4 linked regions of the Homo sapiens genome follow. The protein of the gene in region 3 interacts with the protein of the main gene of each other region in a biochemical or structural test. Each region holds a gene or a part of one and is shown on either strand. Other genes may lie near its edges.

What was found.
Region 1: the proteins of RAB5A (region 3) and OCRL form a complex in vitro, tested with the Homo sapiens proteins (2 studies listed by BioGRID and IntAct, with this or other methods).
Region 2: the proteins of RAB5A (region 3) and RBSN form a complex in vitro, tested with the Homo sapiens proteins (3 studies listed by BioGRID, with this or other methods).
Region 4: the proteins of RAB5A (region 3) and APPL2 form a complex in vitro, tested with the Homo sapiens proteins (one study listed by BioGRID).

What each region holds. Positions count from the first base shown.
Region 1 is NC_000023.11:129,584,829-129,592,258, reverse strand, and holds part of OCRL (inositol polyphosphate 5-phosphatase OCRL), read right to left. Parts: intron 5,258-7,430; coding exon 5,141-5,257; intron 4,081-5,140; coding exon 3,996-4,080; intron 3,374-3,995; coding exon 3,246-3,373; intron 2,415-3,245; coding exon 2,303-2,414; intron 2,114-2,302; coding exon 1,989-2,113; 3' UTR 1-1,988. UniProt on the Homo sapiens protein: Catalyzes the hydrolysis of the 5-position phosphate of phosphatidylinositol 4,5-bisphosphate (PtdIns(4,5)P2) and phosphatidylinositol-3,4,5-bisphosphate (PtdIns(3,4,5)P3), with the greatest catalytic activity towards PtdIns(4,5)P2.
Region 2 is NC_000003.12:15,075,143-15,082,572, forward strand, and holds part of RBSN (rabenosyn-5), read right to left. Parts: coding exon 7,225-7,430; intron 5,661-7,224; coding exon 5,590-5,660; intron 3,020-5,589; coding exon 2,933-3,019; intron 2,023-2,932; coding exon 1,920-2,022; intron 569-1,919; coding exon 464-568; intron 1-463. UniProt on the Homo sapiens protein: Rab4/Rab5 effector protein acting in early endocytic membrane fusion and membrane trafficking of recycling endosomes. Required for endosome fusion either homotypically or with clathrin coated vesicles.
Region 3 is NC_000003.12:19,977,852-19,985,281, forward strand, and holds the end of RAB5A (ras-related protein Rab-5A), read left to right. Parts: intron 1-458; coding exon 459-552; intron 553-2,109; exon of another isoform or gene 2,110-2,323; intron 2,324-5,856; coding exon 5,857-5,972; 3' UTR 5,973-7,324; downstream 7,325-7,430. UniProt on the Homo sapiens protein: The small GTPases Rab are key regulators of intracellular membrane trafficking, from the formation of transport vesicles to their fusion with membranes.
Region 4 is NC_000012.12:105,184,158-105,191,587, forward strand, and holds part of APPL2 (DCC-interacting protein 13-beta), read right to left. Parts: intron 5,999-7,430; coding exon 5,834-5,998; intron 5,668-5,833; coding exon 5,615-5,667; intron 4,291-5,614; coding exon 4,116-4,290; intron 1-4,115. UniProt on the Homo sapiens protein: Multifunctional adapter protein that binds to various membrane receptors, nuclear factors and signaling proteins to regulate many processes, such as cell proliferation, immune response, endosomal trafficking and cell metabolism.

The sequences.
Region 1 (7,430 bases), on a different chromosome or scaffold from region 3:
TACAGGTTGGGGTGCTGGAATAGCCATGGTAGGGAAGCAGATTTCTTCTGTCTGGGTCTACATCTTGTCTCCTCTACCTAGAGATTGTCTAAAACTCTCAACTCTGTATATGTTCCAGGATGAGCTGAAAAAAGGTCGAGGCAGTACACCAACTTAGTGTTTTGATCTGATGTAGAAAGAGATAGGATACTGCATACGTGCAGCACAGAGCCTCCACTAACCACACCCTTGATCACCCAAAGATCCCAGGTCAGTGATATGCTAGAAAACAAGCCCAGGAAAGGTATTTCCCTGTGGTATGACCCTACCCCAGTGTCTATCATCTGCCTCTTTTTGTGATCACTTTCTGGCCTTGCGGAGATGACAAACCTGTTCTGCTCTCAGTCTTCCATTAACTAAGTTCAACACCTAGCCCCTGACCTATCATACCTCCAGATCTGTGGCACCAGTAACTTGACTCCTATTGCTTTAACTCTCAATCAGGAAAGGGTTTAGCCATATTGCAGAATACGTACCTTCCCCCCCACCCCCACCAAGAAACAGGAGAAATCACTGGTGGTGCCTTGGATATGCTAGAAATGTCACAGAGTCAATGCCCAGGATTGTACATACAGCCTGTACGTTATGCTCCTTGCAATTAATGTAAACAGGCAAGGGTGGTTGTAACAAAAGAAAACCAGGAGGAACCCAACTGCATCAGGCAGTTTTGCAGTCAGTGGTTGGTGGCTTGTTTGTCAACCAATATAGATTAATTTATTTTAAAAAAAGGCTGTACCACAGAGCTTGAATAAATGAAAAGCTCAGAGGGTCATCTTGTATGGGAGAGGTAAGGTGCTTGGTTGGTCCTGTTGGCCAGTCTCTTTACACAACACTGGATATGGTGACTGGGAGCCAAGGGGAGTCTCTAAACCCTTTATGTGAAGGAGCTGGTTGTAGAGCCCAGAGTCAGTCCTGCTGAGGAAGGAGGTGACATCTGCCCTTGGTATTTCAGAAGACCAGAGAATGGATTCTAAGGGTCATCCACAATACCTTTGCTGTGGGAAGGAGCAATAGCTCTAGATGGGCCTGCCTGAGGTACAAGACTTCCTCTTTTACTGTGGGGCCAGTGTTGCTCTGGAGGTGGATGTCTAGGCAGGAGATGGGTCTCAGAGACACCCAGGATTAGTCCTTGTGTAAAATTTGAATAATAACAGGAAAAGGATAGTGGGAAGCAGGACCTGTCAAACATGAATGCTCTCACTCTTCAGATACTCAAAGTGCTTCCATTCTGATTGTGATTCTCTCTCATCGATGAGATGCCATCTCTAATAGTCCCTACAGTTATGCTACTAAATGTGATCTAAGAGAATATGGTTCCACCCAGTGTGGAGCCATGAAAAGGCCAATGTTACAGAGACATAAAGATGCCATTGTAGTAGAAATGCACAAATGCATGTAATAACTGCACGCAGACAGTGAATTCACTGTTGAGGACACCCAAGGAGTCACTAGCCTCACTCAGACTTCGTTCAAAGTGACAGAACGAGGGGAGTGGAGTGCAAAGGAGTGATCCAGGAAGGGGTGGGTCAAAAGTGCAAAACAAAGGACTCTAGACAAGTCTCAGCTACAGCAAGTAGTGCTTGTAGGCCTAGAATGGGAAGATCTCAGAATCTAGGCCTAGGGTACTAAGGACAATCATGACAATTGGGTAGGAGGGCAACAAACACATCCCTAGGTGAAGGAGTGTAAATACAGATCTTTTTGCCTTATAAAGAGAAAACACAAAAACACCAAAATATGGTAACTTTGGCTTGGCAATATAAGTCTAAAAGTATTTTTCTGTGTAGGATATGGTAAAGGAGGGATTAGGAAACGCTCTTCCTTTTTACTATAAACAGAACTTGAAATTCTGCAATAGACCCTTCCTGTGGCATGACTTTTTAAATCATTCTGAAATACTTGGAGCCCGAGATCGTCTGCTTCTAGAATATCAGAGAACAGTAAAAGCCTTAGTCTTCTTCGCTCCCAAGCAGAAAGCCCAGAAGGAACTGAATAGCACGCTGGCGGTCACTTGGAGTCTGTCTTGCCATAAGGTTGGGTGGAGGCCTCAGGAGAAGACTAGTGAAGAGAGTAGCTACAAGACGAGAGAAAGACAAGCGGAAACTTCTGTCAGACATAACCTAAGCAAAACCTCAGGGCTGGAGGGCCTGGGGACAAGGACTATTGACTGCCATGTGCCTGCATATGCAGTAAGGTATATACTGGATACAATGCACTAAGAGTATTCTCAACAAACGCCCCGTGTTGCATGAAGCACTCTTACCGATCATGTTGGCATTGACGCTATTGTATTCAGAGAATTTTAAGAGTTCTCGAAGGAATGCCATCAAGTAACGGAAAACATTTCTATGGCATCTCGGAAGCTGGGAGATCACCTGTTTTTAAAAATAGGGGCAGGCAGTGAGAAAAACAGGTGGAAGATGAAAGTAAGAGGAACTTACAGCTGCTGTAATAGTAGTCTATAATCCAACCCTTGCAGGACCCATTTCATCTGTCTAACTTCTATTATCTCCTCATGGCCAACACAATACCTTCCAAATTATAACTTCAAAGTAAGAGTGGCCGTGCTGTTTGGTCCCTGTCCACTCAATGACCAGGCCACGTGGTCATCACACATTCATACGCACACCCTGCCTCACAATAGGTCAGTGTTCATCTGTTCTTTTCCCATTTCCGTAGGCATGTAGCCACGGCACCTACCAAGCTGAATGGTTTTCTGTTCTTTTTTGTTTGAATGGTTTTCTTTACAATGTCACTTAGCATGGATGGGGACTCCTCTCAATACTCACTAGTCCAATTCACAGGTACTGTCAGCTACTGTGCATTAAAATCATTTCAGGATTAAAAACACACACCAAGAAGAGAAAAAGAAGAAAGGCTCCCAAGTGTCACCCATCCTTCCTGGTAATGTCAGCCAGAATTCCACGTACAATCAGCTTCACCAATTTACCCCAGAGTAGAGGGATCCACCCCACTATGTTTTCTGTAAACAGAAATAGGCCAATGGGAAAAAGGTGGCAAATATCGTAGGAAACAACACAACCTAAAATTTAAGGGTAGCAACTCTCAATGTTGGTGTCCTGCCATTAATAACAGATGCAGACCCATCCTACCAGACAGCTGGCTGCCTATCTGGCTCTGTAAAACTGACGACTTCTCTATGGGGCAATCTGCGTCAAACACATCCCCAGGTCAGTAGAACCCACCTGTCGGCAGATCCGGGGATCATAAGCAGAGTCAAGACATCGCTGATACAGCTCGTAACAGATGACTGGCTCTGGCAGGGCTTCCAAGAAAATGAGCAGTGCTTCAGCCACAGAGTGGTTGCTGCCAGCTGAATCAACTTAAGTCAAGGGAAAGGAGCTCCAGGAGAAAGGCCACACAGAGCCCCGACGAGCTCCTTTCCTCAAGCTCCTACAGGGACTGTTTCCCTCCTCTTATTCAGGGCACATTGATCCTAATGGGGGTTTGATATTTTATTGATTCAAGTGCCCTGCAGGTGAGTTGTTACAGAATTGGTCAAAGACTCTTGGCAGCTTTGGCCCAGCTTCAGGGTCAGGGGAATATAGCCTGCAGAGTGACAGTTGACACTGGAGCAGTCCTATAAACCAGGTGCCCATGTTTCCCATCCTTCTCCCTGCCCTGTCAACAGTACGTGTGGTGGCAGGAGTGACTGATCACCTGAAGGAGAATAGTACCAGTGCTGTGGCTTCTATGTCCCATGCTTTTAAGTCATTGTTATCTACCCCTTGCTTCCTTTTAGTAAGAGCTGGATATGGAAAGAGGTCAAAAGTTCCTGAAAGGAAATGAGAAACAAGTGGATAGTCAGTGGTTATCTTATAATAAAAGATATTACAAAGAAAATAAATATAGAACCACAAAAATCAAATATAGGTGCGAAGAAGAGTTTGATCAAGTACTCATCCAGCTTCTTAAGCTTTGGTCGCAAAGGATACGGATTGTCTCAGGAATGCTGGTATCCAGACAATCAATGATCTGCTGGAGCTCTTCCTGCATTCCAGGGGTCTGGAACAGGTCCTCCTACCAAAGAAGTCAGAATGAAGGGACAGGCAAGATAATCACTCCTGAGGTTATGATGATTACCCAAGGATCAGAAGAGCAGCAGGAAGCAAAAGGGAAGGGTGGTATGTGTGTTAATAATTACAAATGGAGGTGTGAAAATAACACATTTTTCCTTTAGCATTTCTCTAATCCATGTGAAATGTTATTTCAAATAGGAAAATGATCTTTTCAAAGGTTTTAGCCTGTACCTAATAAGGCAGGGGACTAGATGGCTAGAGCAGGAAACCAGGTGTTCTAATTCTAGCCTCCTTTAAAATTTTTTTTTATAGAGATGGGGTTTCACCGTGTTGCCCAGGCTGGTCTCAAACTCCTGAGCTCAAGCAATGCGCCCGTCTCTGCCTCCCAAAATGCTGGGATTACAGGCATGAGCCACCATGCCTGGCCTACTTGTAGCCTCTTGACAAGCAGCAGAAGGCAGAGTCCAAACAGAATAACCACATTCAAATGCTAGTACTACTGAACGCTGGGGAAGGAGGAAATCGCATGCTCATACTAAACCTTGCTTTCAAGTTACATTATTCGTCAGTAGGTAAGAGAACATTACCTTTCAATTTAGTCCCAAGAAATATCTCTTTTGGGGGCGAATGAGGTGGGGTGGCATTTTAGTTAGGATTTAAAAGAAAAATTAGGACCAAGTTAAAAAATGGGTTTAAAATCTGCTTTGGATTTTACAATCTCTAATGCCTACATGACTCATAGCCAAAGTAGGCATTATAGACTCAGGTGTGCAGCTGTCCAGGGAAAATGAGAGGGTAGCCAGGAGACAGGTGCTCTTAATTTGGTCCTGGCTCTGCCACAACTACACTTAGGCCTTTGTCTTAGTAAATAACTTACCTTTACATGCTTCAGCTGTGACATCTGTGACTAGGACACTTCCACCCACCCAGTCGATCTGACAGTGCCACTGTGTGCAGGTAGCTTGGGAAAGTTAAAAGCGCTATGCTGACGTGAGGTGTTGTGATTTCCTATAGTAGTTACACACCTTCCAAAGTTGTAGGGAAGGTCTACTCTCACTTACCTGGTGACAGGCGTATTTGAATAGGTGATCTACTAGAAGCCAGATCTCCTTGGGAACCTGAAGGGGTCTCTCACTGGCACCTTCATCCAAAGGAACCATTTGCAGAAGGGATTTCTCCTAATAGATGGAAAAGTATGAGAATCAAAGGGGTCTCAGAATAAAGACTTTGGTGTATAACTTAAAGTCCTTCAAATTCTGGTCATGCAGGTAAAATGTGATCTTCATCTCTTAAGATTTTCCATTTCTTCTCACTGGGGACACTCCTGGTCAGAAGGCACTTGATAGCGAGTCCCATAGTTAAAGGATGTCCTTTCCTAAATGCTTCACTTAATTGTTCTGCATTTCATTTGCGTTTATGATGTTTATTACGTGGATGCCTTGTGTTTAAATCCTTTCAAAGGTGACACTGAGAACCAGTGCTCCGGTGATACAGTCACAGTGGAGTCCATACAGCACTGGTGACTTGGGGACTATTAAATTACAATTGTCAATACAGTAGTTTGAGAGATCAAGGTCTACACTTAGGTTTTTGTTTATTTCTAACTTACTCTTCCTTCAGGTCTTACCACAGATACTGTTGTTTGTTTTCAATGTTGATTTAAATTAGCTTCTTTAGTTTTCAGGAATTAAAGACAACTCTCCACAACATTAGACCCACATATGTAAATACTTCAGGCTTGATGGAAGTTCTAATCTTAAGGTGCTAAAACTCGTAAGCCTTAAGGTCCAAAAATAGTAAACTGAATACAGCTAACCAAGAGGCAGAAATACCACGAAAAGTTTAAGGTCTGAGTCCAGAAGTTACAGTTTCTAGGAATAGCTCAGCCAAGATTTCTAGGGGCTTTTACTCCTTTCATCTATCTTTCTACTATCTGTTATATTCTTCTGAAAGAATTTTGTAAGAGAAAAACCCAGAAGTGACATAAATCAAATCAATCACTATATGTGAATTGGAAATGGCTAGGAAATAAACTCAGTTATCTTAGGTTCATGTAATCAAATATAAATTACATGAAAAAATGTTTGAAATAGTAAAGGCACCTGAAGGCACCCTTCATAAAAATCCCAGTGGAGAGAACCATGACCAATTTTTTTGCATCCTCCTCCCTCCCCCGCCTCTAGCTTGAGGTCATATATATTCTGTATGTTTAACTAAGAAATTCTTGCCTAACATTGTGCAACTTGTGAATTCCATCCACAACCCCCAGTCACGTAGCTTTAAAAGAAAAAAAAAGGAGCATGTCACTACTTTGACAGAGACCACATACACTACAGCCGAGCTGAGGTCTCTTCTTAACATTGTGTTCTTTAACAAGCACTGATGACCTTTAAAAGCTGCTGTGCCTTTCCAAGGGAATAAGAAAGAGAAGGGAGTGTGACAGTTGGTTACCATTTAAAATCTTTCTTTTTTTTCCCCACATTCAGTTTGCTTCCTTTCTTTCCCTGGGATTCTATCACTTGATATTCATGTTCCTAATAGTTGCCAGAATGTCTATCAATGGCTCATCCATTTACTTCTTTCCAGTTACAAATATCAAATCCAAGCATCCACATGGTATTTGAGACAAAACACTGTCCATCATGCACTCTGCTAACTCTCTGGACCAAATGCAGCACGTGTACTGATTCTTTAGCAGATGCCTCCAAACTTGCCATATAGAAATTATGCAGCACTGATTCATGTACTTTTTAAAAAGTCTGACATCCAACTGGAGCTTTTCCTGTACTAAGGCATTAAGGCAACACAAGGCACTGCCTAAGATAAAAAGACAGAACATGGACTGCTCTTAACAGGGAAGAGCTAGGAAGCACAGCTGTCTCAAACCTTGGTGGTTTAAAAAGGTTAATAAAGTGTCAGTAGATTATATACACCATCCACTATTCATTTTCAAATTCCTGTATGATAATATGGAATGCCACAGTTGTGTCTCCAAAGTCTAGAGAAAGATCATACACAGAAAATACTTGAATAATTTCACAAATTATCCTGAACTCTAATTTTCAAAGGAAAACCAAGGTACTTTGTCTTCTTTCAACAAGACACATTCAGCGCCTGATAAGCCCACACTCTGTAACCTTACTTAGTGTTAATAACTAAAGCATGAAAACAGTATACCATCCCCATCATCAAAAGGCATTAAATTCCACCAAGTGGGTACAGTGCATGACTTCAGCAAGTTTTTCAACCTTTCTGGGCCTTGGTTGTCTCATCTATTAGAATGGAGAAAATACCCTGTCTGAAGGTAGAGGCCTGAACCAGATGATCTTTTATGATCTTGTTCAGGTCCAC
Region 2 (7,430 bases), 4.9 Mb from region 3:
AATAAGTTAGGGCATCAGATTTTCTCAATCTTAGATTCACAGGCCGTATACTTTTCTTAAACCTCTAAGGTCTGTTCCCCTCATCTACACTGGAATCTCACGCAGCGTTAAATACACATATAATTTTCTGTTTAATATTGCATATACCGATATGTTCTACAAGGAACTTCCTAATGTCTTGGTCCTCTGCAACTCCTGCCATAGGGAGAACTGTCAATCTCTGTGGTATTCTAGCCATGAGAGAATCAGCAGAAGCTCTGAAAGAAAAATAGGCCCTGGGGAGAAAAACAATTATTCTAGTTCCCATAGATGAAAGTGAGGCTGAAACACAACAGAAGAAATATGCACATTTGAGAGAGAGGTTCTGATTCACTACAACCGCACACAACCTGGGAGCCCATGGCAGCCTCTGTGCTTGAGAGCCACAGGAGGAAGCAGGCCCCATATCCCTGGCTTCACTCACTTGTCTCTCCACGGCCCTCTTCCTCTCCATTTCCTCCTTCCTTTTCTTTTTCAGTTCCTCAAACTGTTCTTTGGTTGGCAGTGACATCAAACCAAGCAACTTTTCCTGCAGGGAGTGACAGACAATTTTACACTTAAACCCTTTTAGAGAAAAAATGAACCTTAAGCCCCATGATGAGAGTCTGCTTAAGCTGAGCCACTCTGTTCTCAGAGAGTGACATCATTTGACAGCAGCTAGAAAGGAGAGAACTCATATTGGGTGAGACAGTCAACTCCAAATGGGCCTGCATTTTCCTTATGAAATGATCAACATCAGATATCCCAGTTATTCACCTGGCTCAGATGTTAGCTTCTCTATGAGGTCTTGTCCCTGCCCATCCTATTAACTTAGCAAACCTCAATCCCAGCCCTCTCTCCCACACTTCCCTGCTGTAAGTTTCTCCAGAGCACTTTTGCTATCTTACATACTAGATATTTTAGTTGTTTATGATCTCTCTCCTTCTCTAGAACATAAGCTTAATGAGAACAGGAACGTTGGTCTTTTTTGTTCACTATAGGACATCCAGCACCTAAAACACTACCTGGTACATAGGAGGCACTCAACAAATGATTGCTGAATAGAGTCACTAATCAAAGTGAGGAAGGGCCTACTTCTCTATACTACAGAGTTAGAAAACTAACCTGACAGGACTCTGTCTATTAGATCTCTTTGTTGGCTGGGTGCAGTGGCTCACGCCTATAATCCCAGCACTTTGGGAGGCCAAGGTGGGCAGACTGCTTGAGCTCAAAAGTTTGAGACCAGCCTGCGCAACATGGTAAGACCCTGTCTCTATTTAATAAAAGAAAAAAAAAACACTTTGTTTTAATTTAAAAAAAAAGAAAAAAACAGATCTCTTTATCAGGGAGCCCCAAGAGTGGTTAACTGTGACTCTCTCAGAAGGGGCCTTCAGGGATAGAAAGACACAATTCAGATCTAACCACTTAGGTTAGTCTGCCCTTAATCGGCTGTTTCCTCCCAGCTGATGGCTCAAGAAGAGTCTCTTAGGAGATTATCCTAAGGAAGAAATACTAAGTACCATTATTACTATCATGGCAACACTTAACAGCAGCAAAAAATTAGTCTATCAAATGTCCAACTAAAGGAAAACGGTTAAAGAATGGCATATACAGTCAATATGCAGTATCGTAACTACTGTATATAAAAAATACAAATGGGAAAAAAGAAAACATACCAGAATAATGAGTGATTGTAATGGGGACATAGGATTAAAAGTAGTTTTAGTTTTCTCTGAAATCCAGATTTTTCTCTAAGTGTGGCATCATGCATTCATAATTTCAAAAAATAATAAATGTATAAATAGGAAGTAAACAAGTCATTGGCATGGATCTGCCTCCTGGGAAGCAAAAGAGCAGGACAGGCCAAGTGCAACATTTATGCCAACCCAGGATGGCTTTACCTGCACAAAAAGTGTAGCTGAGTATCTGATCATTCTCTGCAGCCGCAAATTGCTTGGATGTGGTGGAGGGTCCTGGTTCAAGCCCAAGGTTAAGATCTTCTTACTGAATTGGAACAAACACATGAATATAATGAGCACTGCCAGCTTCAGAAACAAGGGTGAAAAGTATAACATCTGGAGTTGCCAGGCTTTCATGCCAGGAAGGTGTGTAAAGATGGACAAGTGACTCCATTGAAGTTTCTTTGAAGGCAAAGCCCATTTCTTACCCTTTGGCTGTACACAGGCCTTAGCAAAGGGCGCACAACACTGTTATGGAGTGACTGACTACACATGCAGAGCCAGCTTCACAGGTGAGCAACCTATGCAACTGGAAAGGACTGGCACTTAAAAGAGCCCTGTGCTTGGTTTAATGCTCTGCTGTTAGTGTCTTTATTCTTAATAACTTTTGAACAGGGGACATGCATTTTCATTTTGTACCAGGCCCTGCAACTACGAACTCCTGCTGTATGTCTGGATGGACAAAGGCACCTCATCTTATTCTCCCTCTGAGTCACTGGCTAATTTAACCCCAATGGCCAGTCCACAGTTAAAAAGCAGCTGTGGACTTGAGCACAGACACAAAGAAAGAACCTGAGTTTCTATCTTCACTCCACAATTTTTGCTATCTGTGACATGATTCCTCACCTTTGACACAGGATGTTAATCCCTACCTCACAGGGTAACTTCAGTAGAATAAATGAGCTATTCTAGAGAAAACAGCCAGTGACTGGCAGGTGATAGGTGTCAATAACCAGCTCCTCTTTCTTTAATAATAGCAAACATTAGAAATCCTTAACGAAACAAAAGTCACTGAGATGCATTAAGTGCCAGAGCTGGCCCCTTCCTTGCCCTCCTCCTCACCCACTGCCCCATCACCAGAAGTCTGAGTGAGTGCAGGTCTGCTTTCGCCATTTCATTAGAACAGCATCTTCTCCATTCCACCAGCGGGCAGGATACCACTTAATGGACCTTACCTTAAAGCGTCTATCAGCTCATACACTTTCTGCACTTCCACTCGAAGGTCACTGGCATGTTCCAGACTGTAGGTTGTCTCCCCAGCACTAAGGAGAAACCAGAGACACGTGACCTAAGTTTCATGGTGCAGATTGGACAGCATAGTGTAGAAGGACGCTAAAGGTGTAAGGCCTCACAAAGGCAGTTAATTCTCTAAAGGTGGCATTTCAGACTTTCAGATATAATGCAGTGTCCATCTCTTGGAATGAATGAATCAAGTGGAAGTGATGTTTCGATTTGCAGACGCAACAGGGACAGATTCATGCCAAGGCCTCCAAGGACTAGCCCTTATGCTCATCACCAAAACAAATGCGGCTGAATTTACTCTGGCCTACTTTTCCTAAACAATTCCACTATATCTAACAAGATGTAAGAAGTGGTTACACTACATTAAGAGCAGAAAGCTACTTGGCTTTTCTCGCTCAAAAGTACCCAAGGAGGTTCGAGACCAGCCTGGCCAACATGATGAAACCCCATCTCTACTGAAAATACAAAAATTAGCCAGGCATCGTGGTGGGTGCCTGTAATCCCAGCTACTCAGGAGGCTGAGGCAGAAGAATTGCTTGAACTGGGAGGCGGAGGTTGCAGTGGGCTAAGGTCGCACCACTGCATTCCAGCCTAGGCGACAGAGCAAAACTCGGTCTCAAAAAAAAAAAAAAAAATACATATATATATATATATATATATATATATATATATATATATATATACATGGTTTTGTTTTAAATATATATATACACATGGTTTTGTTTTTAAAAAAGGCACATCTACTACTACATGCATCGCTTTAAATGTGGCAGATAGGCAACACAGGTTTAAGACAAAGACAGAAAACTCTGAAATTAATAACACTAGATACCATAATTAATTCTTTTCCTACAGGTTGGGAAAACACTGCTGGGATCTGACTCTAGTAGTTAGCACTTTAACTTCTAGGTTACAAACACTAAGCTTCAGAAAAAGCAACGATCTTAAGCAGGGATCAGCAAATTTTTTCCATAAGGAGCCGAATCATAAATGTTTTCAGCTTTGCAGGCCACACAGTCTCTGTTGCTGCTATTCAACTCTGTCATGGTGGTGCAAAAGCAGCCACAAACAGTAATCAAACATGGGCATGGCTGTGTTCCAATAAAACTTTATGCAAACAGGTGGCAATAACTAGTGTTGGTAAGGCTATAAAGAAAGTGAAACCCTCATACACTGCTGGTGGGAATGCAAAATAGTGCAGTCATTCCACAAAACGATTTAGCAATTCCTCTATGGAATGTTACTCTATGGTAATATATAGTTACCATAAAACCCAGCAATTCCACTCCTAGGTACCTACCCGAGAGAAATGAAAACATGTCTACACAAAAAACATAAAAACTTGTACTCAAATATTACAGAAGCATTATTTATAACAGCCAAAAGTGGAAAAAACCCAAATGTTCATCAACTGATGGATAAACAAAATGTGACAAGTATCCATGCAATGCATTCATACAGATGGAATGAAGTACTGATACATGCAACAACATGGATGAATCTGAAAAACAGTACACTGTGTGAAAGAAGCCAGACAAGAGAGATTTTATATTTATGATTCTATTTATATGACATGTCAAAAGCAGACAAATCCATAGAGACAGGAAATAGATTAGTGGTGTCCAGGGAGATGGGGAAAGGGCAGTGGCTGCTAATGGGTATGGGGTTTCCTACTGGGGTGATAAAAATGTTTACAATGAAGACAGTGGTAATGTTCGCTAATTTTGTGAATACGCTAAAAACCACCAAACTGTACACTTTAAAAGGGTAAAGGTTAGGGTGTGTGAACTACATCTCAATTTTAAAAAAGAAGCAGATGTTGGCCAGACACGGTGGCTCACGCCTGTAATCCCAGCACTTTGGGAAGCCAAGGCGGGTGGATCACGAGGTCAAGAGATCAAGACCATCCTGGCCAACATGGTGAAACCCCGTCTCTACTAAAAATATAAAAAAATTAGCTGAGCGTGGTGGTGCGTGCCTGTAGTCCCAGCTACTTGGGAGGCTGAGGCAGGAGAATTGCTTGAACCTGGGAGGTGGAGGTCACAGTGAGCCGAGATCACGCCACTGCACTCCAGCCTGGCAACAGAGTGAGACTCCGTCTCGGAAAAAAAAAAAAAAAAAGCAGATGTCAGGATACATTTGGCCCACGGGCTGCAGTCTGCCAGCCCCTGCTCTAATGGTCATGCCTGCTTTAAGCCCTGACACCTCAATGTGACACTCAAGTGGCATCTACCCAGACATGAGCATGAGACCCACTGCCCTTCCTCTGCTCTGTCCAGATGCTGCACTCAGCAGCAGTACCTATTGTCTGAGGCCCTTCCCAAACCTGCTCAGTCAGAATAGCCAAGGTCAACTGAATGTGGCTGTCTTTCTACAAGCTCATGTGATGGTAGCCTGTACCCCACTAAAAGACAGACATGAAGATGATTCTCTTCATAATAGCCAAAAGTGGAAAAAAACCAACTTCAGCTGGTCTCAGAAAAAAAGCACGGTTGAAGTTAAGATTTTCATTTTTGGCTACTGGAGAATTGACCTAAAATGCCAGAAAACAGTCACCACTGGATTAGAAAAACATAGATGAATAGCTTACTTTAATGATGCTGCCATCCTGATGTATTCTGGAGCTTTCTGGTCAACTTTCTCCATGCAAAGTCGTAATTTCTAAGAACAAAAACAAAGAGGTAAGTGGTATGCTCAAGATATAGAAACACCTACCCAGAAGCTAGGCTCCATCAATGGAGCTATATTTAAAATGTTCACTTTTCTAACACATTAATTGTTGTTATCAATTTCCTGATTTATAGGCATACTTTCCAAGCAGAAAATTTTGTAGGAAGGAAAGAAAGTGAGAATGGAGCTTCTGATCAGATGTTTCGTTTTGTTTTTTTTTGAGAAGGAATTTTGTTCTGTCACCCAAGGTGGAGTACAATGGCGCGATCTCCACTCACTGCAACCTCTGCCTCCTGGGCTCAAGCGATTCTCATGCCTCGGCGTCCTGAGTAGCTGGAATTACAGGCACGCTGCCACCACGCCCGGCTAATTTTTATATTTTTAGTAGAGACGAGGTTTTGCCATGTTGGCCAGGCTGGTCTCGAACTCCTGGCCTCAAATGATCTGCCTGCCCCGGCCTCCCAAAGTGCCCGGCGAGATGTTTTTGAGAGGAGCAAGGCTTCCAGGGCACAAGCCAAGGTGTCTACCAAGACAAAAAGGAATTAGCTGCTACTTTCTTTCTCTGCCAAGTGATGCCAGGCAACAATGGGAAACCAGCACAAGGCATTGCCAGGGCTTACTTCAAAAGAGGAGGTGGCACAAGCACCGTGGGTATTCACAGAAATGAGATACCAGGTCGTGAACTCCACACAAAGGATGGAGAATGCTACATCTGCAACCCAACATGGGGCTTAATTGACACCATTTCTAGTAGCCTGAGTATTTACATAGGGATTCCAGAAACAGTGCCATTATGACCTGCAGAACTACTAACAATGACTATTCAGTGGTCATTAGGCAAAATTACACTCTTCCTCTGTTCAGAATGTTGCACAAGCTGCTTCCTCTGCCTGGGCTGATCTCTTCCCTGCATCTCTTACTGCCTCCCCACCCAGTCCACCTGGCTAGTCTTCCTCAGCTCACAGGTCTCACCTGGCCATTAAGGGACCAAGCCAGTCTCACTCCCAGATATTCTTTGCACACTATTTCCTCTCAGAGTATGCATCTAGTAGGGGGGCTGTGGGATCACTCAAGTAACGACAGCTGAGGCATTTGGACAAACTTAGAAGGGGACACTCAGTAAACTGGTGAAGCCTGAAAACTTGTAGAACTTTCTAAAACTTGTAAAGTCTAACACTCCCAAGTGAGTTTCCCAGGATTCTTCTGGCCCACTGTTTATGAACATCTCTAGCTTCTGCCCTTCCCACAGAACCTGTCTACACCACATGGCAACTGCCCTTCCTCCTATTGCCTCTGGGCCACCAAAGCTTCCACCCACCTGCTTTCAAGTGGCCAAGGAAGGCCACTTGAAACGAGTTTGTTGCAACACACCCAGGATGACTCTGACTCACACAGGGCCCTAGCTGGGAAATCATAACATGGGCCTTTAACAGGAACTACAAATAATTCAAACGAACAACTTCCCAAAGCATTCTCCAGAATCTGCAGGAGTGTACATAACAAACAGCCAAATCTGCCTAAGAAATTAGACCCAAGACCAGACAGCGCGAATCACCTCGTAGAGCTTCACGATGTCAGGTGTGTGCTCCTTCTCATCAATCTGCTGCTCTCTCTTGAGCAGCGTGTCCTTGCAGTGTGTACAGCAGCGGATCCGGTCATCGTCCTTCTCATCCAGGACCGAGCTGACACTGCTCATGCTGCTGATGCTGCCTCGGCGGGAGCCATGGACACTGTTGGGTGACTGGCTGGGGCTGGTGTGGG
Region 3 (7,430 bases):
TATAATATTGCTGTAGAAGTCATTGAAAATTAAATATGAGGTTGTCATTTAGTGTTTGAAGCCAGTGTTAGATATTTGGTTTCCCTTTGTCTTCATTGCAGACAGTAAGTGCAAATAAAAATTGCCGTTGAGATCAAAGAGAGTTTTATTTAGAATAAGATAATTCTCCCCCATCTCTGGAACTCAGTATTTGAAAGCAGATTTAATGTAAGAAAAGATTAATCAAGGTGGGATAATGCAAGAATTTCAGACAAAAAAGGAAATAGTCCATTATAAAATTATCTTGCACAGTGCTCTTACCTCTGTTGTAGCTTATTATATAGTTGTTGATTATAGATGATTATAGGAATCAGGTTGTAGTAATAAGAAAGTCTCCTTTTCTATAACAAGTTTAAAGCAGGTGTAGTGTATTTCCAAGAGATATATCTCATATATCTCATTTTTTGTTCTGTAAACAGGAAGCACAGTCCTATGCAGATGACAATAGTTTATTATTCATGGAGACATCCGCTAAAACATCAATGAATGTAAATGAAATATTCATGGCAATAGGTAAGATTAATATCTCTTTTTAAATGATCAATATAAGCAAAACAAGTGTGAAGCATATTTGGTTTGACTGTCTCTTTTTTAAAAAATTTTTGGGGGTGGGTTTGTGTGTATGTTTATGTGTGTGTGTGAGAGAGAGAGAGAGATTATACCACTTTTCTAAGTCCCTTCCACAAAACAATATTTTGTTGGTAATATTGTTAAATTTGAAAGATGATTACCTATTAGGTTGTAATACTGTCAGTTTAGGCAGCTTCTTCCAGGTGAGTTAAGCCTTAACCTCTTAACCTGATAGTTCAGACAGACAGATTTTGCAAAGGTTTCGCTGGGAAATTTGGATAAATATTTTTTTTATTAGATTATACTTTTTAAAAATCAAATTATTGGTAAATATAACTCAGAAGAACATGACACATAAGTATACAGATTGACAAATTATTTTAATGTAAACATTATAAGGAAGATGATTTCAAAGCATAGAGGCGTAAGGAGAAAAAAGGAAAACAAAACAACATCCATACTTTATATTACCTCAGATGGTCATTTGATCTTACACAATGTTCTTGCTGTTGCTTTAAGGTACTTTTTTTTTTTTTGAGACAGTCTCGCTCTGTCGCCCAGGCTGGAGTGCAATGGTACGATCTCAGCTCACTGCAACCTCCACTTCCCGGATTCAAGCGGTTCTCCTGCTTCTGCCTCCTGAATTGCTGGGATTACAGGTGCACACCACCACGCCCAGCTAATTTTTGTATTTATAGTAGAGACAGGGTTTCACCATGTTGGTCAGGCTGGTCTCGAACTCCTGATCTCGTGATCTGCCCACCTCGGCCTCCCAAAGTGCTGGGATTACAGGCGTGAGCCACTACACCCAGCCTAAGGTACTTTCTTTTTTTTTTTTTTTGAAATGGAGTCCTGCTCTGTCACCCAGGTTGGAGTGCAGTGGGACGATCTCGGCTCACTGCAAGCTCCGCCTCCTGGATTCACGCCATTCTCCTGCCTCAGCCTCTCCTGTAGCTGGGACTACAGGCACCCACCACCATGCCCGACTAATTTTTTTTGTATTTTTAGTAGAGACGGGGTTTCACCATGTTAGCCAGGATGGTCTCAATCTCCTGACCTTGTGATCCGCCCACGTCAGCCTCCCAAAGTGCTGGGATTACAGGCGCGAGCCACTGCCCCTGGCCCTAAGGTACTTTTAACTGATGGTAATTGCTGTTTCAGTTATAAGTAATGAAGTTGGAGTAGTAATAAGCCTCCTTTTTTCTATAACAAAAATAAAGGTTGGTTTTGTTTTTTGGTTTTGGATTTTTTTTTTAACCCTTTCCTCTTTCCAGTGGTTTTAATGTATAGATTCTACCTGAAGGGTCTGTTTTGGTGGTTCTCAAAGTTTGCCGTCTGTGGTTTTCATGTGCCCAGCACTCTTCTCATCCCATAACACCTTTTATTTTACAGCACTGATTCTTAACTGGGGTGTTCACAGTCCTAACCCCAAGTAAGAAATATTCTTAAATTGAACTCATAAATAGTTAATAGCTGAATCAGAGAATAATGAAAACCCAGTAAAAGTTGCAAGTATTTTTATTATTTTTCACTAGGTGACAGAGTTTAATGGTACTTCATTCGAAATGGGAAAGAACTTGCCTTTTCTCATGTAAACTGTTTTCCTGAAAAACTCAAGTTTGCAGTTTGCTAGGGAAGTGCTGGCACAGTTGCGAAGGATTGTGTGATAATATACTCATTTTACAAATGTGACAGATGACACCCAGAATCACATCTGAAAAGTTAGAGGAAACAATGAGTTAATAGGCCTCTCAAATCAGCCTGCACTGTAAACCTTTCTCACAATATTTAAACTCTACCAGATGGGCTTTAGTTTGTACCTTTTTATTCAAACATGCTAATAAAGTCATTTTTCGAGTTAGAAAGCAGCCTACATATTTTAGTTTTTTGTTTTTTTCTGAAATCAGAATGTTGCACTTCTTAAAAGAAAATCTATGTTGTAAATGGAATTGTGGCCTTTCCATTTCCTTCACTAGGTTAGTAAATTTTTTTTTCTTTTTTTTTTTGTTATGAAGGAACACTTTGATAGATTAGTAACTTAAATCACACAGTGCACTCATAACAACTCTAATCAATGCAAGGACTAAAAAGTTACTCGTTCTAGTTTACCTCCTTCATCCTCTTAATCTCACTCACCTCTGATTTAAACACTTAGGGAACATGCTAAAGGGATACATGATTGATTACTCAATCTGGAACCTAAGTTGTTATTATATACAATATATAGTGCTATTTTGTGTCCCAGGTACCAGTGTTCAACATTTCTGGGGCTTTGCTTGTAAATACATTTGACTGGAGATTTACCATTATAATGCTATTTATGCTACCAGCCCAGAGCCAGTCCCAGAGAAGTGGCCCAATTGAAGGCTTTCTTTCCAAACTTCAGTGCTCCTGGCTCCCAAATCCATTGCCCAACCCAGCATCTAGGATTCTAAAAATGATTGATGCTGATGTAGAATGGAATGTGTAGAACAAATAAAGGATAAAAGGTTCACAATGCAACTAGGCAATCCGATCTCAAAGCAGAGTGTATTCAATTTCTGAGTAACCTGAGTCAAAGCTATGGTAAAGTTAGAGTCTTACCATAGTGGTCTGTCCCCAAGATTGATAGAGATCAGTGTGTGCAGCCACTCTTAAAATCAGTACTCTTAGTCATCTTTAATATTCTGCCTCCCCTCAAAAAATGAATTTAGCACATCAAGGATCTTATGTATTAAAACAAACTACAGCAATCTCCAACTTTACAGTGGTTTGACTTACGATTTTATAACTCGATGGGGTGAAAGTGATATGCATTTAGTACATTCTTAACTTACTACGGGATTACATACAGAAACCCATCATAAATTAAAAATATCATAAATCAGGCTGGGCGCAGTGGCTCACTACCTGTAATCCCAGCACTTTGGGAGGCCAAGGCGGGCTATCACCTGAGGTCAGGAGTTGGTCAGGAAACAAGCCGGGCCAACATGTCGAAACCCCGTCTCTACTAAAAATAGAAAAATTAGCTGGGTGTGGTGGTATGTGCCTGTAGTCCCAGCTACTTGGGAGGCTGAGGCAGGGGAATTGCTTGAACCCAGGAGGCAGAGGTTGTAGCGAGCTGAGATCGTGCCACTGCACTCCAGCCTGGGTGACAGAGCGAGACTCCGCCTCAAAAAAAAAAAAATCATAAATCAAAAACATACAACTTAGGATGGATATATCAGGATGTAGCCCCATTGTAAGTCAAGGAGCATCTGTATATCCAGCAGGTAAGTTTTTTTAATCAGTGGGAAGCACACTCCAGAGAACAGCCACTAGCTGTATAGAGCTTGGCAGAGGTAAAGCCGTAACTGCTGGTTGAGAGTGTTGTCTGAATTTGACAAGCCACACTCATCGGACTCAAATAAAATTAAGAAATAGTTTTTGGAGATGAGGTCTTCAGGATAATTCTATCTGGATTAGGTACAGCTACTGGTCAGTCAGATTAGGATTCATCAGCCCATAAAAGGAGAAAATGAGGTTGGTTGAGGTGGCTCACTCCTATAATCCCAATACTTTGAGAGGCCACGGTGGGATGATCTTCAAGGCCAGGAGTTCTAGACCAGCCTGGGCAACAGAGCAAGACCCTATCTCTACCAAAAAAAAAAAGCCAGGCATGGTGGTGCACACCCTGTAGTCTCAGCTACTTGGAAAGCTGAGGTGGGAGGATCTTTTGAGCCCAGGAGTTCAAGGCTGCAGTGAGCTATGATTGATGCACCACACTCTAACTTGGGCTACAGAGGGAGACCTTGTCTCCAAAATGAAAAGAAGTATGGCTGCAGGCTACATTCAAACTAAGATCACAACGAAGTGTTGAGTATGTATAAATGTATGTGGATATGTTTGTGTCTAAGTGTATTTCCACTAGCATGCTAAGGTATGTTTGTGTGTGAGTATGTTTCCTCCAGTATGCTAAGTTTTGACACATGCAGGCATCTAACTTGGGTGTTATCTGTCCTTCCTTTGCCCAAAGCATAGATTATAATTGTTCATTCTCAAAAATGCAACTCTTATCTATTTCCCCTTTATTTGAAGGCAGCTGATGGTTACTCTGCAAGGTGTAAGTTTCTCTTTTAAAAACTAAGCGGTCGAGCATGGTGGCTCATGCTTGCAGTCCCAGCACGTGGGAGTCTGAGGCGGAAGAGTTGCTTGAGCCCAAGAGTTCAAGACCAGCCTAGGCAACAAAGTGAGACCCCATCTCACTTTGGAACTCAGGACTGCAGTAAGCCATGATCATACCACTGCACTTAATCCTGGGTGACAGAGTGAGACCTTGTCTCTTAAAAAAAAAAAAAAAGAGAGCATGTATATAGATGTTTTAAGGCCAAAGGCTGTGGAAGCCAGGAAGGAAATAGTAGATATGATCTATCACAATTCGGGGTGATAATTAGTTGCACAGTAGAGGACAAGTTTTGTTGGGGTGATGATTGCAAAGGTATTTGTATCCTGACTTGTTCTAAAAAATGTTTGTGGCAGTCTAGAGAACGCTGATATGAGCTGAGCTTCTTTATAAACTTACTGGCTGGCCATCATCTTTATTGACTTAGATTTTATTTAATAGAAGTAATAATGAGGCCAGGTGCCATGGCTCACGCCTATAATCCCAACACTTTGGGAGGCTGAAGCAGGTGGATCACCTGAGGTCAGGAGTTCAAGATCAGCCTGGGCAACATGGTGAAACCCCGTCTCTACTAAAAAACAAAAATTAGCTGGGTGTGGTGGGGCATGCCTGTAATTCCAGCTACTCGAGAGGCCAAGGCACGAGAATCACTTGAACCCAGGAGGTGGAGGTTGCAGTGAACTGAGATCACGCCATTGCACTCCAGCCTAGGTGAGCCTGGGTGACAGAGTGAGACTACATCTCAAAAAAAAAAAAAAAAAAGAAGTAATAATGAGTATAAAATAAAATAGAACTTTTCTGGTATTATTGAGTGAATCGGTATAGAGAATTACATAAAGCACTAGTTAGGCTTAAGTTTTAATTGTATCTACAACCAGTCCCCATCTACCGTTCCCCCAACACAATTACCCCAGAAATCAAACTCCCTAAGACAGCAACCAATATTTTGGCATTCAATACTCAGTAAACATTTGAAAAGAATGAACATATGGTTATATGATACTTTGGGGGTAACCTAACTGGAAAGAAAAATTATAGATAAGCAGGTGAAACTGATATTAATATGAGTATTCAAATATTCTATTTATTTGATCATTTTCTTTCAGCTAAAAAATTGCCAAAGAATGAACCACAAAATCCAGGAGCAAATTCTGCCAGAGGAAGAGGAGTAGACCTTACCGAACCCACACAACCAACCAGGAATCAGTGTTGTAGTAACTAAACCTCTAGTTTGAACTAGCTGGAATAGTCTTCTGCTTCCTAAATGTTAATAACAATGGAATTGGAGCATTTAACCAGCCCAGTATGACTTCCAAAAGAAGAGACTTATGATAGAGTCAAGTTTCTAATACAGAATTATTTTAAGTGTTTTGAACTTAATTTTTAATAACATGCATGGGTCCCTCTCACTAATGTTTCAACAATAGGGAAAAATGAGAACTATGTGGACACTTGTTTCATTGGAAGGTTAGGGGGAATAATTTCTCATCACTAGGAATATAGACAAATGACTGTCTGGGCCCACACAGTTAACCAGCCCATTTCTCCACACTGGTACAGTAGTCACCTGTGAAAAAAAAATTGGAACTTACTAATTTGGGCTTTTCAAAAACATTCTTTGTTTAGAAGGAGATTCTAAAGTTATTTATGATGCTTAGCCATAGTATTCAGGCAAATGTTCATTTCTCCTGGTACCTGTATTTAAAATGTACATTCCACATTTTAATAAATTAACCACAAGAAAATAATCCCACATATACAAGGTCAGGGGTGGGGAAGAGTATTAATGGTATCTTAATTATACCCAGTCTGGTTTTTTTTTTTTAAATGGGGTAAAAATCAAATGCAACCCCATCTTGTTTTAGGAATTTTGAGAACTAATAAATGCACCTTAATGGTCAGTGTTCCTTTCAAACATGTGAGTTCTTTAACAAAAATGAAATAAACCAGGTGTCTGTGATTTCTAATTAATCACCGCTGGCCATTACACAGGTTTTGTTGTTTGGGGTGGGGAGGGGGCTTTTGTTCCCTTTTGACATAATATAGTCAATGCACTAACAATTATGTATATTCAAACTTGATTATTTTAAATTCGATCTTCAGCTGTACTGTAAATAGGGTACTGCATTGTAGTCTCCATATCTGTATTACTTTTCTGTAATATTTAAGAGTTGCTTAAAAGCATACAAAATGTACTGTTACTAAAACAGCTAATTATTTCTCTCTCCCCCTTTGACAGGAAGGGGCTTCAGTTGTTCCTCCATGGCTAGAACCATAATAAACAATGTACCCGTAATTTGTAACATAAAGTATTGCAATATGTTAGTAACAATCTTGCAGCCTTCCTTTCCAAAGTTCATTTTATTTTGATCAGTTCAGTATATTGCACTAATTATTTTAGGTATTTTCATTATATGAAAGCTACCATGTGTCAGAGATGATTTAATCTATTTAAGTGTTGGACTGCTAGGAGAACTTGTACATTTATGATAATGCAGAATTAGGAAAACGGTTCACCAGTGTTTAGTTTTATATTGAGGTGCTCAGGTTGGAATAAAGTGGTATAAAAAGCAAGTATCGGCTTTTCTCTTTTCCTTTTTTTTGGCATAAAACAGTGAATATATATAAATGATACTATATGACCTAGTATCCGCTTTTATATTTTCTTTACTATGTTCAT
Region 4 (7,430 bases), on a different chromosome or scaffold from region 3:
ATAACCTTTTATCCAGATTCTTAGCTTCCTCGCATTGGGTTAGAACATGCTCCTTTAGCTTGGAGGAGTTTGTTATTACTCACCTTCTGAAGCCTCTTTCTGTAAATTCTTCAAACTCATTCTCCGTCCAATTTTGTTCCCTTGCTGGCAATGAGTTGTGATCCTTTGGAGGAGGAGAGGCATTCTGGTTTTTGGAATTTTCAGCCTTTCTGTGCTGCTTTTTCCTCATCTTTGTGGATTTATCTACCTTTGGTCTTTGATGCTGGTGACCTTTGGGTGGGGTTTTTGTGTAGTCATCCTTTTTGTTGATGTTGATGCTATAGCTTTCTGTTTGTTAGTTTTCCTTCAGGCCCCTCTTCTGCAGGTCTGCTGCAGTTTGCTGAAGGTACACTCCGGACTCTCTTTGCCTGGGTATCACCAGTGGAGGCTGCAGAATAGCAAAGACTGCTGCCTGCTCCTTCCTCTGGAAGCTTCATCCCAGAAGGGCACCCACCAGATGCCAGCTGGAACTCTCCTGTATGAGGTGTCTGTCGATTCCTGCTGGGAGGTGTCTCCCCGTCAGGAACCACCAGAGTCAGGGACTCACTTGAGGAGGCAGTCTGTCCCTTAGCAGAGCTCAAGCGTTGTGCTGGGAGACCTGCTGCTCTCTTGAGAGCTGGCAGGCAGGAACATTTAAGTCTGCTGAAACTGCGCCCACAGCCACCCCTTCCCCCAGGTGCTCTGTCCCAGGGAGATGGGAGTTTGATCTGTAAGCCCCTGACTGGGGGCTGCTACCTTTCTTTCAGAGATGCCCTGCCCAGAGAGGAGGAATCTAGAGAGGCAGTCTGGCTACAGCAGTTTTATGGCGCTGCGGCAGGCTCAGCCCAGTATGATCTTCCTGATGGCTTTCTTTACACTCTAAGGGGAAAACCACCTACTCAAGCCTCAGTAATGGCGGATGCCCCTCCCCCCCACCAAGCTCGAGCATCCCTGGTCAACTTCAGACTGCTGTGCTGCCAGTGAGAATTTCAAGCCAGTGGATCTCAGTGTGTTGGGCTCCGTGGTGATGGGATCCACTGAGCAAGACCACTTGGCTCCCTGGCTTCAGCCCCCTTTCCAGGGGAGTGAACAGTTGGGACTCGCTGAGGTTCAGACGCCACTGGGGTGCGAAAAAAATTCTCCTGCAGCTAGCTCAGTGTCTGCCCAAATGGCCGCCCAGTTTTGTCCTTGAAACTTAGGGCCCTGGTGGTGTAGGCACTCGATGGAATCTCCTGGTCTGCGGGCTGCAAAGACAGTGGCAAAAGCCTAGTATCTGGGCTGGATAGGTCTGTCCCTCACTCACGGCTTCCCTTGGCTAGGGGAGGGAGTTCCCCGACCCCTTGTGCTTCCTGGGTAATGCAATGCCGCACGCTACTTCTGCTTGCCCTCCATAGGCTGTACCCACTGTCTAACCAGTCCCAGTGAGATAAGCTGGGTACCGCAGTTGGAAATGCAGAAATCACCTGCCTTCTGTGTTGGTCTCACTGGGAGCTGCAGACTGGAGCTGTTCCTATTCAGGCACCTTGTCTGGGAATCAATTTTTCTTTTTAAATCTTCTAATTTTCTGTGTGACCTCTAAATGGTCTCAGAACCTATTCCACTGCAGGGGTATGTTTACTGTGGTGACGTATGCATAACGTCAGATTTATCATTAGTGATGTTAAGTGTCTTCATAACTTTGTGCAGCCATTACCACTATCTAGTCCCAGGACATTTTTATCATCCCAGAGGAAACTCCATCCCCATTAAGCAGTTACTCATTCCTCCTCCCACCCTCTGGCAATCTCTAGTCTGTCTTCTGTCTCTATGGATTTGCCTACTCTGGATATTTCATATAAACAGAACCCTACAGTATGTTGCCTTTTGTACCTGGCTTCTTTCACTTAGCACAATGATTTCATCATTCATCCATGTTGTAGCACTTATCAGTCCTTTGTTCCTTTTTAAGGCCAAATAGTATTCCATCATATATATATACAGGTTGAGTATCCTGTATCTGAAATTGTTTTGGATTTCAGCTTTTTTTTCAGATTTTAGAATACTTGCATTATATTTACCAGGATGAGCATCCCAAAATCCAAAATGCTCCAATGAGCATCTCTTTTGAGCATCAAGTTGGCACTCAAAAAGTTTCAGATTTTGGAGCATTTGAGATTTCCAGATTTGGAATGCTCAACTCTACCACATTTTGTTGATCCATTCATTTGATGTTGGGCATTTGTATTATTTCCACCATTTGGATATCACGAAAAGGACTGCTATGAACATTTGCGTATAAGTTTTTGTTTGAACACCTGTATTTAATTCTTTTGGGTAACTACCCAGGAGCCCGCCAAACTATTTTTTCACAGCAGCTGAACCATTTTATATTCCCACCAGCAATGGGTTCCAGTTTCTTCACATCCTTGCTAAACGCTTATTTTCCATTAAATATATATATCATATATATATCATATATATCATATATATGATATCGATATCATATATATCATATATATGATATATCATATATATATCATATATCATATCATATATCATATCATATATATATCATATATATCATATATATATAAACATCTGTGAGACAGTGTGCATGCGTGCGCACGCCATCTTAATATGGAGTGACATATCTCATTGTGGATTTGTTTTGCATTTCCCTAGTAACACATAGCATCTTTTCATGTCCTCATTGGCCATTTGTATATGATCTTTGGAAAAATGTCTATTTCAAGTCCTTGGTCCATTTTTTAATTGGGTTGTCTTTCTGTTGAGTTTTATAAGAGTTCTTTGTATATTTTGTGTACTACATCCATATTAGATAGAATTTGTGAATACTTTTTTCCCATTCTGTAGTTTTTCTTTTCACTTTGATGTGCTGTGGTTTTTCACAGTACTTTTACATATATTTTCCTTTGATCTTTTTGGTGGAAATTATTCCAGGACCAATAGGATTATAAGAACCATGAGCCCATTTCTGTAAAAGGTCCAGGACATAGTGAAAGAACAGGTTTTATTAATAAGAACTTAATTCTCAGATAAGGTTCATAATAAATGAAAAGGATGGGCTTAATGAATGGAAGAAGCTATATCCTAATTTTTGCTATAGTCCTAGTTACCTTTTTTGAAGCTAACGTTCATTGAGCACTTTTCATGTGCCAGTGAGTTGTAAATGTCTTACATATATTAGCACATTTATTCCTCATGACATTTATTCCTCATGACAACAGTGGAGGGTGTGAATAGTTACTTTCATTTTACAGCTGAAAAAACTGAGGTACAGAGGCTCAAAAATTTGCTTAAGGTCACATAACTAAGAAATGCCGAAGCCAGGAATAAACTGAGACATTCTGGCTCTAAAGCAGTGCTGTCCCTTAGAAATGTAATGGAAGCCTTATATGTCATCGAAGTTTTTCCAGCGGCCACATTAAGTGAAAAGTAACAGATAAAATTAATTTTACTTAATCCAGTATATCTAAAATATTACCAGACATGTGATTAACCTAAAAAATTAGTGAGATGTTTTACATCCTAAATCTTAGAAATTTGGTATGTATTTAACACTGAAAACACATCTCAGTTCAGGCTAGTTTTGCTGCAGATGCTACCTGTGGCTACAGTATCATACACCCATGTTCATAACCAGGATTTTGGTCATATCTGAAACCCAGATCGTATTACCTGAAACACTAAATCATGTAGTTAATATGGCCTGCTCTCTCTGTGATGGCCAAGTTATTTAGGCAGATTTTTAAGTTTTTTTCCATTATTTTTTATAAATAGTACTCTCAGAAATGAAAAAAAAAAAGCAAAACCAAAAAACTTCCATTTTCAAGCTCTGAGCTATAATATAGAGAATAAGTCTAGTGTGATGGCATCTTTGTGAACAACAGTATTCACTCACCACTGGATTTTTGAAGATACCAGTTCTTGTCTCTAAGGGAGCACTTTCTAGGCTATCTATCTTATGTAAAAAGTAGTGGGGGCAAAAGCAAGAGTAGTCTCTTCATTCCAGTACTAACATTTCAGATGGGTGCATTAGCCTTAAAAGGGGAATTAGCTGAAGCCATAAGAAAGTCTGAAAATAAAACTGAACGTACCTCAAAGATTGACTGGTGACCATCAGATGGGATTCTGTCATGCGGAAGATGTTATGAATAGCCCGAGCAGCCAATACTTGTCTCATCGCTTCATAAATCACTTCAGTAGTGCTGTCTGTTTTAACTGCCATTGATCCCAAAAACCGAACTATAAACATCTGCTGCAAAAGAGAATCTGGAAGACAGCATTTTCCACTCAGGATCTCATTTACTTCCTGCTGCTGTTGATCTGCATACCAGGGTCAGATGTGCTAGTTTTGCCTGCTTTCTGTGGAGGACTTTCTACCAAAATTTCTCAATACCACTTTTATAAGCCCAATATTGCCAAAGCTCTGCGTCTTCCATTTGTCTACATCTTGTCAGTTTGTTTGGAACTACTTCATTAGACTAGAAAGGCTTTTCTTCATCTATAAAATGAAATGATGGTGGTACCAGATGAACATCCTTCTAATGCTGAAACTCTAGGTGACTACATTGTACCTTTTCTCTGAAAAGAGTGAGTTCACTAGACAATAGAAAATTCATTACTTTGGCCCACTGATAAAGTCCTCTTAGAAAAGAAATTTTATTTGCAGGATATAAGATCTCATGTTGGGTCTCATGCAATTCATACTTCATGTGTATTACGGAAAGGCAGTGATGATGTTTCATAGCCTAAAGGAAGTCAGTCCTGGCTGCTGACAGTGGCGCATAACTTGACAAAACTGACTCCCAGCAACCATAACTAGAAGACCAAAGAAGGTTTTTTCTTTTTTTTCTTTTTTGAGACAGGGTCTCACTCTGTAGCCCAGGCTGGAGTGCAATGGCATGATTTCAGCTCACTGCAACCTCCGCCTCCCAGGTTCAAGTGATTCTCATGTCTCAGCCTCCTGAGTAGCTAGGATTACAGGCACCTGTCACTACACCTGGCTAATTTTTGTATATATATATATATTTTTGTAGAGACAGGGTTCTCACTGTGTTGCCCATGCTGGTCTTGAACTCCTAAGCTCACGTGATTCACCTGCCTCGGCCTCCAAAAGTGCTGGGATTACAGGCGTGAGCCAGCGTGCCGGCCATCAGATACGTTCTTAAGTACATTATAAGAATGTAAAAAACCAAAAATTTGAATTTGAAAGACTTAAATATCATTTGTGTCATCTTCAAATTCAAGAACAAGTTATTTGTGCTTTTGGTTTTCTAAAATGACACAGCGTATTTCCAGTTCACCAAGACTGCATTTGAATGTGATAACAGATTCAGATTTCACAACATTTCTATGCTATGCTACAAAAACGCTATGGCTAATGGTGAAATAGCTGTAGGTGGTCTTTCAGCTACCCCTCAGTTTTTATCCAAGACTTGCCTCCACTGCAGATATCTTACTAAACTTTCAGAACAACAAATCTTAATTCATACTCCTAATCATAGCTCTCTAAAACATGATTTCACATCTTATTTCAATGGCCGTTGTCATTTTGTGCAGAGGAAAGAATAAGGACACCAAACTAGTCACTTACCTTCTGCTTCTGGAAATGATTCATCCTCAGTTTCACCAAAAGGGTTGGTACGCCTAGGGGAATAGCCAGAGTTGAACAAACACGACAGCTGCAGCTAGAAGGGCACTTAACACTTGAACTGGAAATCAGAATGGCAACAGTCTTTGGTGGTGGAGGGGGACACAAGATACCTCAAATTTACTTTCAGTTCTCCCAGAGATAACCTCTCTCAGCCCATACCTGCTCCCTCTGTTCTGATCAAGGAATTCTGTAGCAGGAAGCACAATATCGAATTGAATCGGCGTTCCAGGCGCGATCAGCTCCTCTGCTTCAGGTAGACTGGCTGTTGCTTTGGGAACAATCTTGTCATTTTCATTTTCCATCTCTGAATTTTTCAGGTTCTGGCTGAAGGGGAAAAAAATCAATTCCCTTAACCTTACGCTTTTATAATCAAGTGAATACTTGTTGAAGGCTGAGGTGACTTTTATGAATGAAAATACAAGGGGAAAGATTGACCTCAATCCCTTAATCCATTCTACAAATAAACCTTCTTCAAACTTCCTTCATATCCTTGGCTAAAAACCTTCAGTCTGCCCCATTTCCTGCAGTTCTCTCTGCTGCACAGCATCCTGCACTGTGTTACTAGTTTTCTGTCTGTATCCTTCTCTGTGAGGCAGGTTTTGGAGGGCCTATGCTATAGCTAAGTCATATGTATTCTTGGAACATAGTAGGCACTAAAAAATGTTAGCTGAATGAACCAAAGGTCCTGGCTTGGCATTTAATCACCATCTGGCTCTAATTTCCCCAAAAGCCTCCCTTTCCACTCCTTTAATGCACCCTCTACGAGAGCTGTACCACACATACCACATGCTTTTCCTTATTTCCATCTTTATCCCAATTCTGCTGCTCACCCAACTCTCCCAACCCAGCTCAAATTCTTCCTTATCCACTAGGCCAGCCGGCACCCCGCCTCCCTCCTCTGAACTCCTGTGATTCTTCTCAGTAAGTCACAGGCACAGTCTTGCGGCCCTGTGTGCCTCCTGAGCTTCGCATTGTGCCCACACTCATTGCTGACATTGTGGCCCATCAAATACTGTGCTCTCTGTGGACAGACTAATCAGGAACCAACATGTTCTTCTCCTCCAGTCTCAGAATACTGTAATTTAACTTTTCAACGTTTTAAAAATCTTTTCTCCTCAGCCAGACTATAAACTCCTTTGAAGGGCAAAGAATATCAATGTATTTTGATTTCTTTCATTGCCTGGACCTTAAAAAGCTCTCAGTGATCTTTCTGTTCATTTGATATGTCAATATTTTCCTATTTCTCAAACATGTCAATAACTGAATGTAGTGTATCAAACTACTTTACAACAGGCATTTGACAAATGATCATAATGACTGGAATGTGGATGAAACAGTACATAGGCTTGTAGATGGTCACTGCAAGGCAAGCCCTTGGAGACCACTTGGTCTGACCTCCATTGTTAACAGAAAAGGAAACTGAGGCCTCTGGAGAAATTGAGCAGTTTTGAAGGCACTCAGTTACCTGGTGGGCGAGCCAGATTATAAACAGGGGTCTCCTCACTGCCAGGAGAGTGCATCTCCAGGATGTCATACTGCTTCAATAACCCTAAATGGGACAGTCACATCTGTTTGATCCTGTCTTTAAGAGAGGGCTGTGATATAATAAGTGGTAAGCACTGAAGAAAGCTATGAGTAGAAGCTTCAAGGGGAGAAAGTGAGTCTAAGATTTTGGCTCCCCAGAGAGTCAAAGGGGGGAGATAGATAACAATCAAGATAGGGTGAGGCCAGGTTGTAGAGGGCCCTTATACCGTCA